2 linked regions of the Homo sapiens genome follow. The protein of the gene in region 2 interacts with the protein of the main gene of each other region in a biochemical or structural test. Each region holds a gene or a part of one and is shown on either strand. Other genes may lie near its edges.

Evidence for each region.
Region 1: the proteins of NEDD9 (region 2) and PEX14 interact in a test that uses a peptide from one of them, tested with the Homo sapiens proteins (one large-scale study listed by BioGRID and IntAct).

Annotation. Positions count from the first base shown.
Region 1 is NC_000001.11:10,617,827-10,621,643, forward strand, and holds part of PEX14 (peroxisomal membrane protein PEX14), read left to right. Parts: intron 1-505; coding exon 506-591; intron 592-3,817. UniProt on the Homo sapiens protein: Component of the PEX13-PEX14 docking complex, a translocon channel that specifically mediates the import of peroxisomal cargo proteins bound to PEX5 receptor.
Region 2 is NC_000006.12:11,187,408-11,191,224, forward strand, and holds part of NEDD9 (enhancer of filamentation 1), read right to left. Parts: intron 3,799-3,817; coding exon 2,557-3,798; intron 901-2,556; coding exon 811-900; intron 1-810. UniProt on the Homo sapiens protein: Scaffolding protein which plays a central coordinating role for tyrosine-kinase-based signaling related to cell adhesion. As a focal adhesion protein, plays a role in embryonic fibroblast migration.

The sequences.
Region 1 (3,817 bases), on a different chromosome or scaffold from region 2:
ACAGCCCACCCCCGTGCCCCCACCCAGCGTACCACGGTCCCCCTCTCCACTTCGCTGAGGCCCCGCTTGGTTCTGCTGTGGCCCCCAGCTTATCGCCAGCTATAGTAGGGCATATATGGGTATATTTATGCTCCCCTAAACATACTCCTGTTATCCTCTCTGGATCTTTTGTTCCTGAGGTAGAGACCATGCTGTTGGTCTTCAGATCACCTCTGCCACCTGACTGCCAACTCAGGTCTCAGCTCACTGCTAGATACCTCCACCCACAGCCTGCAGTCAGGGTTGGGTGACTGGCATCCCTTGTGTCCCAGTTGAGGCAGTGGGAACAGGAGGGGTGGAGCCGGCTGCTGTTGTGATGATCATGTGCTGCCTTCCTGCGTTGGAGTGTTCCACTTGCCCATTGTTGGAGGCGAGGAGACTGTGCCACTGAGGCACCTGTGCCAGCCCCCACCCGAAGAAGGACGCCATGTGCGTCTTCTAACCCTCCTCCTCTTCCCGCCTGTAGGTCCCGCAGGCTCCCGATGGCGAGATTACGGCGCCCTGGCCATCATCATGGCAGGCATTGCATTTGGCTTTCACCAGCTCTACAAGGTGAGTCACCCCCAGCGGCTGCAGGTGCTGTGCCCCTGCCACCCTGTGGCATTCAGCACCCTTTCACTGGTTCCCCTGCATGGAGGCACTGCCGTGCTCTGCCCTGGAGTGTGTTGGCAGTGAGAGGCTGTGGTAGAGGTCGGGGTTCACAGCTGGATCCAGGCAGACCCTGCCCTGCTGTGGGGCTTGGCAGGCTCTGCCCACCTTTTCTCCAGTGCTCAGCATATACCACCCAGATCTCCACTTGCAGGGGCGTCGTGAGGTCTGTCCCTTGCCAGCCCATGTCAGGCACTTACAGTAGTGCCCGCACGGGGAAGCCGTGCGAGCAGTTTTGAGACACAGAATAACATAATGGCGAAGAGCATGGACGCTGGGCCAGCTGCTTTGCTGAGCCCTGGCTCTGCCCCTCAGGAGCTTGGTGATCACAGGCTCTGGTCTGTAAAATGGGAATAACAGTCCCCACTTCACAAGGTTGTCGTGAAGTCCGGAAGAGTCAGTCTCCCTTGTAGAGGACTCAGAGCCATGCCCGGCACATGGAAGTGCTTTATACACCATTGTTCTGCCACAGCATTTAAGAGCGGCGGTGAGAACCTCAGTGTCATCAGATGTATGGGAGCTGTTCTTTTTGCTCTGTCTGTTGTGCTGCCATCTATAGAAATCTAGGATTTCCCAGGCTTCTCAAGTCAACTTTCAGGATCCCAGGTTCATTGCTTGCAACAGAACTGCAGGCATGACGTGAACATTGACTCCCTTGTGAAGGCCCAACTTGGACGTGAAGCAAATGAGTCTAGAGTCTAGAAAATGCAGGCCAGGGTAGGTGCCCAGTCCAGATCTTGGGACCCTGTAGAGAAGCCTCTTTTCTTTCGAGGCTGCCAGCTCCTCCACCCCTGATTGGTGATTTTTTTTTTTTTTTTTTTGAGATGGAGTCTCGCTCTGTCACCTAGGCCGGAGTGCAGTGGCATGATCTCGGCTCACTGCAAGCTCCGCCTCCTGAGTTCAAGCAATTCTCCTGTCTCAGCTTCCTGAGTAGCTGGGATTATAGGCGTGCTGGTGCATGCCTGGCTAATTTTTGTACTTTTAGTAGAGATGGGGTTTCACTGTTGGCCAGGCCGGTCTCGAACTCCTGACCTCAGGTGATCCGCCCACCTCGGCCTCCCAAAGTGCCAGGATTACAGGCTTGAGCCACCGTGCCCGGCTGGTGATTTTCTTTTTTAAACAACCTGAATGAGCACTCAGACTCGCCATGGTCACTCTTAGCACATGAAACATGGTCAGCCATGGTATTCCAGATTCTTCATTTTTGATGTAATACAAAAGCTAATGACAGTTGTAGCAGAATATAATTTTTTAAGTGTAGCATGTATTCCTGGAGCTGGACATTTCCATGTTAGAAATTGAGAAACAAGGGCTGGGCGCGGTGGCTCACGCCTGTAATCCCAGCACTTTGGGAGGCTGAGGCTGAGGATCCTGACTTGATCACGAGGTCAGTAGATCGAGACCATCCTGGCTAACACGGTGAAACCCCGACTCTACTAAAAATACAAAAAATTAGCCCAGCATGGCGGCGGGCACCTGCAGTCCCAGCTACTGGGGAGGCTGAGGCAGGAGAATGGGGTGAACCTGGGAGGCGGAGCTTGCAGTAAGCCAAGATCATGCCACTGCACTCTAGCCTGGGTGACAGAGCAAGACTCCTTCTCAAAAAAGAAAAAGAAAAAGAAAAAGAAATTGAGAAACAAAACATCCTGGGTTGGCCCAGGTGCCGTGGCTCACACCTCTAATCCCAGTACTTTGGGAGGCCAGGGCAGGCAGATTGCTTGAGCCCAGAAGTTTGATATTAGCCTGGCCAACATGGTGAAACTGTGTCTCTACCAAACAATAAAATAAAATAAAATAAAATAAAATAAAATAAAATAAATAAGCTAGGCATGGTGGTGTGAGCCTGTAGTCCCAGCTATACTCGGGAGGCTGAGGGTGGTGGGAGGATCACTTGGGCTCGGGAGGTGGAGGTTGCAGTGAACTGAGATCACACTACTGCACTCCAGCCTCGGCAACAGAAGGAGACCCTGTCTCAATTTAAAAAACAAAATAAGCCAGGCGCAGTGGCTCATGCCTGTAATCCCAGGACTTTGGGAGGCTGAGGTGGGCGGATCACTTGAGGTCAGGAGTTTGAGACCAGCCTGGCCAACAAGGTGAAACCCTGTCTCTACTGATAATACAAAAATTAGCTGGGTGTCATGGCGTGCACCTGTAATCCCAGCTACTTGGGAGGCTGAGGCAGGAGAATCACTTGAGCCTGGGAGGCATAGGTTGCAGTGAGCCTGCAGTGAGCCGAGATTGTGCCACTGCACTCCAGCGTGGGTGAAAGAGCGAGACTTTGTCTCAAATAAATACATAAATAAACAGAACAGAACAAAAACACCTCTTGGGACCCGGTTCTTCTCCCTCTGAACTGGTGCCCCCTTCAAATCACTGACTGTATACAAGCACCAAGAAGAATGTGACACGAACGCCAGAGTCCTCAGATGAATGCCCTGGCTGTAATGAGCAGTAGGCACTGTCACATGGCCACCCATGGAGGGCCTGTGGCCTGACGGGAGCGGGAGGGCAGCTCGGCAGCCCGCCTTAGCGTGGGCACTCACACGGAGCTGCCACTTGTAGTTTCTACGAAGCTCTGGGCTCTCCGCTCTGTTTTAAAAAGAAAAGAAACATTGCAATATCAGTCACAATGGTAACAAGAGAATTTCTAAAGCATCTGCTCAGTTTCTCGAAATTAAAAAAAAAAAAAAAAAGAAATGGTAAAAAGCCCTCGACTGGCTTTATAAGCACGTGAAGACTTTGGCTAGGGCAGCGTGTCTGCTCCTGCCCTTAGGACTTCTGATCTCAGAAATGGGGTGTTTAGTTGGTTACACACACATATATGAATTCTTTTTTTTTTTTTTTTTTTTTTGAGACACAGTCTAACTCTGTTACCCGGGCTGGAGTGCAGTGGCATGATCTCTGCTCACTGCAGCCTCTGCCTCCCGGGTTCAAGCGATTCTCCAGCCACAGCCTCCCGAGGAGCTGGGATTACAGGCATGCGCCACCACACTCAGCTAATCTTTATATTTTTAGTAGAGACGGAGTTTCACTGTGTTGGCCAGGCTGGTCTCGAACGCCTGACCTCATGATCTGCCCACCTCAGCCTCCCAAAGTGCTGGGATTACAAGCGTGAGCCACCGCGCCCGGC
Region 2 (3,817 bases):
AAAGTCCTCAGTAGATAGGCCTGGATATATGTTGAAAACATTGAATTCTGCTCTCCTACCTTTAGATTGGACCAAGGCCAGGCAAACCATAGGCTTGTGTTGCTGGCGAAAGAGAGACAAATAGCGAGGTAGAGACAGAAAGAGAGAGAGAGAGAGAGAAAGAGAAATGGCCCAATCAACGTGGCCCAATCAGACTCTTTCTTGGGAATCTGATGAACAAGAGAAGGGAGCTAACCATCGGAAGAGGAAGCCGAGATGAAAAGCCATCTATAGAAGTTCTGAGTGGCCATTTATGGGTTCTGCAAAGTTACAGGGGAGCCAAATGAGTAGATAATTAGAGAAAACCAGAAAATAGGTGAGAGTGAAGTAGACTGATAGAAAGAAGCAAAGGAACTACAAGAAGGAGAGATAATTTACAGTTCTAGTTCTCCCCAGACCTGGCTCTATCTTCACTTTCTGTTACTGAATTCCCCTACTGTGGCTTTACTATAAACCTGCTTGCTTAGGCTAGCTTGAATGGGTCTTGTTTCTTGAGACCAAATGCCTTAACCCAAATAGTCCTCATATGTTAGATATGCAGGTTTAGCCTTTAAAAAAATTGCCGTTTAGATGGAACCCAGGTACACCCAGTTGAACTAACAAGGTCATAAACCTTCTCTTTGCTTTTAAACCCCATTCCGTGCTTTGGAGCTGATTCCTGCCAGTGAGCTGGAAGAATCAAAATCATAATCTCTTGAAGTGATACCTTTCCTTAGTGCTAGGTGGGAAATCTTTCCAATGCCAAGCAGTTTTTGCTCTGATTGAACTTACCTGATGATGTTCCAGCTGCATCTTGTTCTGTTTCATGATATTCTCTTTTTCCAATAGCTCTTTCTGTTGCCTCTCAAACTCCTCCTTACCCTGTTAATTTTCAACATAAAGAACATATTATGTCATCACTGTGATTCACTTATGCTAACAATTTCATTGACGGATGAGTAAATACTCTTTATTTTCCACTGCCTTGGCAACATCTCAAATGCCCAGTGAGGCACTGTGAACCCTAGACGACAGGGGTGGCAGAAAAATAAAGCCCATTGCCATATAGGGTGCCAGCTTTCTGGGGCACCTTAAAATTTTCGGAGAGCTACTCATGATTCCCTTCAAATCTCATATATAATGTTCTTTTTATAGTCTCTGGGTTCTTTTCTCATAGATTATATGTGAACCTGTAAACCCCCAAATGCAGGTCTAAATGTGGTCCACCTCTCACTTCTAGTTCCCTCAAATCATCTATAGATTTCTGCTCCAAGGCAGTAGTTCCCACTGTGCAGGGTCAGACAACCAGTAAGATGAATGTTCAATGCCTCCATCCTCTCTCTCTCCACTTCCTTCCTCAGCATCAGGTGGGGCTCAGTTCTCCTTGCCACACTTTCTTGCGCTTGAGGGAATTTGGCATAATAGTTACGTAGTTCTCAGTATAATCTGTGACTCTCAGTCAAATTAAAAGAATGGCAGAATAAGATAGTAAGCCTAGTCCTAAACAATGGATCTTGGTAGATTTTTTTTTTTTTTTCTGAGACAGAGTCTCGCTCTGTCGCCCAGGCTGGAGTCCAGTGGCACGATCTTAGCTCACTGCAACCTCCGCCTCCCAGGTTCAAGTGATTCTTCTGCCTCGGCCTCCCAAGTAGCTGGGACTACAGGCGTGCATCACCATGCCTGGCTAATTTTCGTACTTTTAGTAGAGATGGGGTTTCACCATATTGGCCAGGCTGGTCTTGAACTCCTGACCTTGTGATCCACCTGCTTCAGCCTCCCAAAGTGCTGGGATTACAGGCGTGAGCCACTGCGCCCAGCCAGTAGAATGTTTTAATCCCTCAAAGTGGAAGGGAAAGCTGTCGGAATCCCAGGTCAACTTGGAGCTTGGTAGAATTCCCAATTGTAGGAGGCCAACTGTGACTATCCAATGTCCCATACACAGATTAAGCTCCTAGGACAGCTAGCTAATGCCCAGTGGTCCTCTAGGTAAGTCTGAGATGGGGCTAAGTTTTAAAGCAATTATACACACACATACACAGAGTAGGGCTAGCAGGGGCCTTAGAAATTCTCTGGTGCAAAGGTCTTCTATTCTTTTTCTTAATGACGAAAACTTTTTTTTCAAATAAAATATTGCATGGAACTATACATAAAACACAAATAGAAGTGGAGCTGGTATTATTATTAGAGGGCCTATTATCCTACTTGGTGAGTCTCCTCTTACCTGAGGTATATCAACGGGATCTAATCCAACCCCTTACCCCATTCATTTTGCAAATGAGGAAATTAAGGCCCAAGGAGGTTGAATAAGTTGGTCACACAGTAAACGTCAGAGAAAGGGCTAGATCTGAGTGAGTACTCAGGACTCTCAGCCCAGCGTTCTTACTACTCTACGACACTCCCTCCAATTTGTGAACCATGTAGATTAACATTAATTATGTTCTCTCCTTTGGCAGTCCAACCCGACATCCTTATAGGCATCTTTCTCAGGCTCCCTGCATGTGAGTGAGTGTAGGTGTTTTATGAGTTCCGCTGTTTTACCTGTAGGTGGACGTAATCGTAGTCATCCATCCAGCTCCTCTCAGAACCATCACTGCTGCTACAGTCAGGGGCCTGCTCCTTGCTCAGGCCTGGGGGCAGTGCCTTGTTGTGGGCCTGGGCCTTGTGGTCACCAGGATGCAGCAGCTGTCCCTGGGAGCCACCGTGTGGGTACTCCGTTGAGTTCATGATGCTCTCCGGCCCATTCTTCAGATGCAAGCTGCCAGGGCCGGGTCTGAAGAGGGCCTCTGCGTTGGTGTTGATGGTTGTGGTGAGCTGCTTGGCGTCATCGGGCACCGTCTTTGCCACCATCACAAACCGGTCCAGATCGTCACACTTGTTCTGGGGCTTGTTGATGGCCAAGATATTCAGGGACCAGCTGCACTCATTTAAGTCATGGCTGGTTTGACTCAGGATCTGGTGGGAGTCTTCAACTCGTTGCAGCTCCCGCTTCATCTTGTTGTGGAGGATGAGTTCCGGGAGGCAGGCAGCATTTGCAACAGCTCCCTTGACAAAGTGGAGGTACTCCTTCAGGAACAGCTCCACCTTGTCCACTGCTGTGCGTATTTCATTGATGTGTCTTTCCATATATCCGTAACACCGCCAGTCGGTAGTGACCAGTGCCATTAGGCTGGAGACACCCATCTCAAGGGCCTGCTGGAGCCGCTGAAGTCTCTCAATAGCTGTGTCTGGATCCAGGAAGAGCCTTTTGTCCTGAGCTGGGGAGGCTGACAGTGAGGACTCCTTGGAGGAGGTGGAAGACGTGGACATGTTACTCCGGGTGCTGCCTGTACTGGAGAAAGACAATCGGTTGATCCCATCCACCAAGTCCCGAGAGCCTTTAGCATCTGGCGGGTTATGCAGAGGGACATCATAAACACCATCCCTTTCCTGGGGGTTTGCTTTCTCACTGGTTTCTGCTGGTGGCTCAAGAAACTGAACGCCTCGGGGGACATCATATGCGTCGTTCTGAGAGCCCACTGACTGTCCGAGTTGCGGGGGTGGGTGATTCGGGGACAGGCTCTGGTGCCTTCGAGCCACCGGTTCTGCAGCTCCTGGAATGTCACAGTTGTATTTTACATGAAGGTCCTTCCCTGCTGGCTTGGTGCAGGTTGGAGGAATGTCATAAACCCCCTCCGGTCTGAGGTCCGGCCTTCCAGCTTGTCTCATGGGAGGGGGGAAGTCATAGTCTTTTTCCCTAAGCCCTGCTTCATCCCGGCAAGCAGAGGGCGGAATGGCATATACCTGCAAAGCAAGTAGAAAG